2 linked regions of the Homo sapiens genome follow. The protein of the gene in region 1 purifies or fractionates together with the protein of each later gene. This does not show direct contact. Each region holds a gene or a part of one and is shown on either strand. Other genes may lie near its edges.

Region 1 (3,649 bases):
AAGAAAGAAAGAAATTGAACTTCTAATTTAAAAACTTTCCTCAAAGAAATCTCCAGGCCCAACTGGCATTTCCGGTAATTTTTCCCAAACATTTAAGGCAGAAATATTATGAATATTACATAAATTCTTCCAAAGAGTATTTTAAAAGCATTTTCCAACTGCTTTTCTAAGTCCAGCATCATCTTAACAGGAAAACCTGACAAAAACATTATAAAGAAAAAAAAATTATAGACCAGCGTCTCTTGTAACCAGAGTTGCTAAAATCCTAACAAAATATTCTTCAAATTGAATCTAGCAATATATAAAAAGGACAGTGCATTGTGACCAAGGTGAGTCTACACCAGGTTGAACAAAAGTAAAAAAATGTAATCGTGATAGGATAAAGAAGAACCTACAAAAATCACATACCCTATAACGTACCCTCTAACACAGCAATGCCACTCCTAGGTACGTGACCATGAGAAATGGGTACCCAGGTGCCCCCAAAAGATAAGTACAAGAGTGTTCACAGTAGATGCTTCATAATAACCCAGACTGAAATCCTCCCAGGTGCTGAGAACAGGCAGCTGGATAGCGCGGCATCTGTGTTCAACCGAAGGCCCGAGGGAGAGAACGCTGCTGTTACCCGAGCCACCTGACTAACCGCGAGCAGGAGAGCAGGAGAGCAGGAGAAGGCAACACGAATTCCACACCTCAGGAGTCCACCTAGACAAGATCCAAAGCGAGCAACAGACACCCACGACCTGGCAGGCATGTGGGCGGCCCCGTCATGGGGCGGGCCGAGGGCTCTGGTGGTGTCACCATGTCTAATGCTGGCACTGTTCGCTTCCTGTTTGCTTCAAGAAGACCAACCTGTACACTTTTCTGAATACTTGCTACCCTTCAACAGGAAAGGTTACTTAAAAACCGTTTCTGGGACACCGGTGGAGTCAGGTATGTGATGTCTTCTTAACATTATTAAAAGAGAGAGAAAATCCATTTTTGTATCATAACTGTGCTATTCTGAGCCCCTAACAGATATTTTGTATGCTTTAGGGCATATGACTGGATTCCACAACATCCGAAGCCTCTTGCATGTTTCCATGAGTTTCGCTTCTGAGATGGGCCACCAGGGCCGTGTCACAGAATGATGCGTCTGGGTCTTGGCCCCCGACTTGGCAGCGCCCACACTGAATGGCTGAGACCCTCCTTACCGGATCTCCGCTGCCCTGTGCTCCGGGAAACGCTTGTGGAAATACTTAAGCGCCTGCATCACGGCTGAGGTGCACTCCACATAGGTGTAGTCAATCATGATGTCCCCTGGGAAAGGGAGGGAAGAACCAAGTGTTGGGTTTCACCCTGGCTGCCCAGGCTCTGCAGCTCAGGCAAAGCCACAACAAGCAAGAGTGTTGCAGTGAGCCCGGGCCCGGACGCTGCCTCCCTGACCAACCTCCAGAGCAAACGCCGGCTGGTCCAGGACACACACCTGTGCTACCTGAGAGCGAAGATGAGGGGAACACAGCAGAAAGCTGCGACCCCACCCCAAAAAGCCATGTGTGATGTGGAGGGGACCAGGAAGGCGGGTATGTGAGGTGCCCAGAGGTGGACCAGGGCTGAGATCCTCCCCCAAGACCAGTACGGTGGCAACCATGCACACACAGCAGCCTACTGCCCATGGCATGGGTCCCCACAGTCCCCACAGTCCCCAAAGACACCTCCCTGCAGGCGCTCTGGATACACAGCAGCCTCCACAGAACACAAGCCCTGTGGACTGAGCAGGAACCAGCCCAGGCTGTGGATCTCACTGGAACCCTCCACTGTCCCCTAGGTCTGACCTGATGCCCTCCTATCCACAACACAAGGATCCTGCCACCCCGGGGGATGGAGGAGCGCAGAACAGCCTGGGCTGAGGGAGGGCTCCAGACAGATCTGCCGGTGAACCTGGGCCCTTGCAGCCTCGGGCAAGGGGGAAAAGCTGGCCCCCAGGTTTGTGTACCACAGTGCTAGCCAGCCCCGGGTTTGCGCGCCGCAGTGCTGGCCGACCACTCACCGAAGACCTCCGAGGGGTTCAGCAGCTCCAGCAAGTGCCCCCCACGCTTGGTCTCATAGGTGGCGAACCCTCCATCTGGATTTCTCATGTTCAGCAGCTGAAATCACAGAGAGCACCCTAGAACTCGCCCATGTGCTGAGCACACACAGGCGCCCAGGGCACAGCGGAACTCTCTAGAGGCAACACTAGGGCTGACAACCGATGGGGCAGGAACAGGGGGCGGAGAGCTGATTTCCACGTTAACCAAGCCCTCGGGTGCCCCAAGCAGCAGCTGCAACCTCATCTGTCAGGGCCTCCATGCACAGCCACCAGGGAACATGCCCCCACACGTGCCCATGACTTAGAAACCAAGTCTGTGCTGCCAGAAAAGGGCAGGGTCTCCACTGGGAAACACACACAAAAGCCAGATGTGCTGAAAGGATGTGGCACCAAAACCAACACCAACAAATTCCCTCTTCAGACACCCAGTGGAAACCACCAGAGAGAAACCTTGGGGGCCACGCCGGCTCCCCCAAGTATCGGTGGCTGGGCTGGACACCAGCTCCGCAGTGCAGGGCCCTGTGCACACAGCCCAGCAAGGCCCCTAGGGGTCCAGCCAGAGCTCACAGTTCTCCACATATAGACACCATCCAAGGACAAGCTCCTACGGCCTGGCCGGACTGTGTGCTGGGCTGGAGCCCACAGGAGTGGAAGTGAGCACGCAGCTCATCTGCAGGACACGAGGTATGGACGGGGCTGCTGGGACCACAGCCTTACCACAGCCACAGCATCGCAGAGCCGTTCTCTGGGGATGTGCTCGGTGACATGGGGACACTTCTCCTGCAGGAGCAGCACAGCCTTCAAGGCCTCAGCCGTGCAGTCAGAAACGATCCAGCCGCAGTCCAGCGTACTGAAGGAGAAGCCACCCTGCAGAGCACAAGCCATGACTCCAGGCTGGGGGTGTCCACACCCCAGTTCTCAGAACCTCCCCACAGCCGCACGCATCCCTCCCCACCACAGAGCACCCGGTCAGGGCAGGGGCCCAGCCACCAAAGGTGTGGGTGCAGCCAGGGCCCCAAGCTGGGTACATCCAGACAGACCTCCAGCTTCCAGCACAGGGACCCTCAGGGGTGCAGCTCACACCCTCAACACCTGCAGATCTCACGACGGACAGGATGGGGCCCAGGTGCCCCCCACCCCCATTGTAAACAGGCAGCAGCAGCTGGGTCCATGCCTAATTTCACAGTCTGCACCTGTGGTCACAGCCCACACCGGCTCTGAGGTCTACTTCTTTCCTCTGCCTTCCCCGGACACACTGGCTACACTTCGGCTGTCCTTCTGAAGCCTGTGTGTGCCGTGACCACTGGAACTGCTCTGAGGCACGGCTGTGTGTGCAAGCCAACTGTGCCTCCATGTGCCAGGCAGCTCAGCAACATGAAGCATGAGCCCCTAGGCCAGGCATCCACCACAGCAGGACACCCAAAAACGCCAAGGGAGGAGTCCCCCAGGGAGGAGCCCCCCCTTCAGAGGGAAGGACCCACCCTGCTGAGGGCGGCCTCCCCTGGGGGACGGGACAGGGATGGGGCTGGCTCCCGCATACCTTGCGCATCTGGCGGTAGTACTTCTGGTAGTCGGGAGGGT
Region 2 (3,649 bases), on another chromosome or scaffold:
ACACTCATGTCCATCATGCCCATATTCTGCAGGTTCTCCAGACTTGCTTCCATGTCCTCCTGTAAAGAGGAAGAAGAATCGTTAACGACCACCTGGACCAGGACAGGGAGCTGCTGCTTGTCATCTCTACCCTGACATCACTTACCTGCCCGTCTCTGGAATCGTCTTCCAGGCCATTATCTTCTGTGCCTTCCTCCTCCATCTTCAGTCCTAATTACAGAATAATTGTTCAATCAGATAACACTCAAGTTCTACCTCATAATTAGTTTATGCAGAATAGATTTCAATCTTAGAACAGAACACATTACAAGATAAACTATAAGTCTCCCCTCTCCTGTCACACGTAATTTTGTCTCAATTTGTTTTCTTTTTTTTTTTTTTTTTTTTTTTTTTGAGATGGAGTCTCCCTGTGTCACCCAGGCTGGAGTGCAGCGGCACAATCTCGGCTCACTGCAATCTCCACCTCCTGGGTTCAAGCGATTCTCCTGCCTCAGCCTCCTCAGCAGCTGGGACTACAGGCGTGCATCACCATGCCCAGCTTATTTTTGTATTTTTAGTAGAGATGGGGTTTCACCATATTGGCCAGGCTGGTCTCAAACTCCTGACCTCGTGATCCACCAGCCTCGGTCTCCCAAAGTGCTGGGATTACAGGCATGAGCCATGGTGCCCGGCCTCAATTGGTGTTCTAAGTAAGCCATCAACAGGGAGATGAAAATCTAGGATTCCTCTTAGATTCAGAGTACTCTGATTTTCCACAAAATATCTAAAAGTTTCCAAATATTTCAAAAACACTCCAAACCTAAGAAAAAAAATCACAAAAAAATGAGCAAAGGATAAAAACAGGCATTTTCAACAAACCAACAAAAAAATGCAATACCCATCTAGTAACCAAAGAACTGCAACATAAAATAACATATTGAGTTAGTGATTTGCTGGCTCTCCCTATATTCCACCCATTTCAAGTAGGTCTTTGTCATTTTTTAGCTCAAGAACTTTTTTTTTTCCCCCAAGGCAAAAAGGCAAAGGCTGCCATAAAGTCGAGAATCATCCTGGGTTTTGTGACCACAAAATAACTATTTGATAGAATTCTGCTAGGAATTGCAAAAGGAGGCCAGAGGAGTTCAAGAGTGGAAACCTTGAGAAGAAACTTGAGGCTCTATATGTATCAAAAACCTTACAAATGTGCATACCCTTTGTTCCAGGAATTTGAGTCTTAGGATATCTGACAAGGAGTTCAAAACATAGATATCTGTCCTATTATACCTGTTAAACACCCAAAAGGGAAACAAATTACAGCATATTTTCATTCAGATATGGTTCACAACCGGGGGGAATGGCTGGCAATGTCTGGAGACATTGTTAGTGGTCATGACCTGGGGGAACGCCATTAGCATCAGTAGCTAGTGATGCTGGTCACGACCCTGCAATGCACAGGATACTCCCCAACCCCAGAGAATTCTTCGGCCCAAATTGTCAACAGTGCCAATGCTGAGAAACCCTGTGGGACACCATCCAATGTCTCACAATATTTAAAGAATGTATGCTTTTAAAGAATATTTAATGAAACAGAAAAAATGCCCACAGTGTAGGCACAGTGGTTCACGCCTGTAATCCCAGCATTTTGGGAGGCTAAGGCAGGTGGCTCGCTTGAGCCTAGGAATTAAGAGACAAGTTCGGGCAACAAAGTGAGACCCCCATCTCCACCAAAAATACAAAAATTAGCCAGGCATGGTGTTATGTACCTGTACTCTGAATTACCGGTGAGAATGAGGTGGGAGGATGCTCCGAGCCTGAGAGCTTGAGGCTGCCACGATCATGCCACTGCCCTCCGCTCTGGGCAACAGAGTAAGACCGAGTCTCTCTAACATACACACCGATAAAGAAAAATCAAACAGAAAAAAATACATACTTTCCCGTCTCTACTAAAAATAGAAAAACAGCCGGACGTGGTGGCGGGCGCCTGTAGTCTCAGCTACTCGGGAGGCTGAGGCAGGAGAATGGCCTGAAGCCGGGAGGCGGAGCTTGCAGTGAGCCGAGATTGCACCACTGTACTCCAGCCTGGGCAACAGAGCGAGACTCCGTCTCAAAAAAAAAAGAAAGAAAATTAAACATAAAAAACCTGCAGGGTCTACACCTCAAGAGTCTCACTCACCACTATTATCAATAATCACTCAAGAAATGCAGTTTAATTGCATGTCTCGCAACGTGAGCTTTTTCCAGTCTATCATTTAAGACGCCTAACAACGCTAGCAGGTTTTATTATCTGCATTTGACACGAGAATTTGGTTGAGCTCCAAAGCTGGCACTCTAAAACTCAGCTGTCCCACTTCGCATTATATCTAAACACAGCATATCCTTTTGAAATACGTTGTCTAAAAATGTTTGGTAATTGCACCCAATTTCTAGGCCCCTAAATAGTAGCCTGCAGTGCCCACATAGGCCGGAAATAGGAGAAATGCTGACCAAAAAGCATCACAGAAAAGCTAATGTGGCGCAGACAGGCGACGCCCCAATCCCCGGCACCTGGCATTGGCCAACGAAAAGCTGCCGCTGCTGGGGACACAGATGTAAGAAAATCCAACTTTAATCCCACATGGCATCTAAAACTTAAATTTTTAATCCAAGTTTTATTTTTTCCAAACCCACCTACAATGTTGCCTAGGACTCCTAATCTTGGTGAAGACCCTTACTCTGATTTATAATGAGGACACTTTTCCCTCAACAAGTTTGGCTACTTCAGTTTTTGCAAGGAAGCAGTTACTGGTGAGTTCCCAGAATGAGTCCAACTTTGGACTCAACTGAACACTGCTGCATAGTGCTTGAAACGAAAATTAACTGGTGAATTCCTCCTGATCTAACAGTTGTATGTAATCACAGGCCCTAACTGCAACCACAAAGTCCTAAGGCTCTTGTGCTTTATCCATTAGCCACGTGCCCCGACACCTCTAGAGAACATCACCAGCTCAGGATGGAAGATGAGGCCTGCAGGGCCTGAGCACCACCTGAAGACCTGGGCTCTCTCTGGGCTTGGTTACTTCTCTGAAAAAGGAATGGGAAGGGATCAGAAGCCCTTCTAACCCTCACTAGAGCTGAGGCTACAAAAGTCCTTTTTATAGCAACAGAAGAACTTTATCATCCAAGCTTTCCTGACAAAACACTAACTCCAAGTAGTTTTGAATCCACCTAAGCTTTAATCTAGACATTCAGGCAGGTCTTCAAAGCACTCAGCTAAAGTTTAGTTTTTCTAATGATGCAAAGATCATTAGAAATGATCCCTGCTAGGCCGGGCACAGTGGCTCATGCCTCTAATCCCAGCACTTTGGGAGGCCCAGGCGGGTGGATCACCTGAGGTGAGGAGTTCGAGACCAGCCTGGCCAACATGGATGGTGAAACCACGTTTCTACTAAAAATATAAAAAAGTAGCTGGGCGTGGCGACGGGCACCTGTAATCGCAGCTACTCAGGAGGCTGAGGCACAAGAATCACTTGAACCCGGGAGGCGGAGGTTGCAGTGAGCCAAGACCGCACCACTGCACTCCAGCCTGGGCAACAACAGCAAAACTCCATCGCAAAAAAAAAAAAAAAATCCCTGTTAAATTCCTGCTAAAAGCCAAGGATATTTTGAGTAGTAAGTCTTGAACTTTACAGTT

The links. Proteins that work in one complex are often made in the same cells at the same time.
Region 2: the proteins of LSS (region 1) and SAFB2 purify together in Homo sapiens (affinity purification with mass spectrometry; one large-scale study listed by BioGRID and IntAct). This does not show direct contact.

Annotation. Positions count from the first base shown.
Region 1 is NC_000021.9:46,204,643-46,208,291, forward strand, and holds part of LSS (lanosterol synthase), read right to left. Parts: coding exon 3,609-3,649; intron 2,936-3,608; coding exon 2,786-2,935; intron 2,127-2,785; coding exon 2,030-2,126; intron 1,300-2,029; coding exon 1,194-1,299; intron 1-1,193. UniProt on the Homo sapiens protein: Key enzyme in the cholesterol biosynthesis pathway. Catalyzes the cyclization of (S)-2,3 oxidosqualene to lanosterol, a reaction that forms the sterol nucleus.
Region 2 is NC_000019.10:5,616,277-5,619,925, forward strand, and holds part of SAFB2 (scaffold attachment factor B2), read right to left. Parts: intron 211-3,649; coding exon 146-210; intron 60-145; coding exon 1-59. UniProt on the Homo sapiens protein: Binds to scaffold/matrix attachment region (S/MAR) DNA. Can function as an estrogen receptor corepressor and can also inhibit cell proliferation.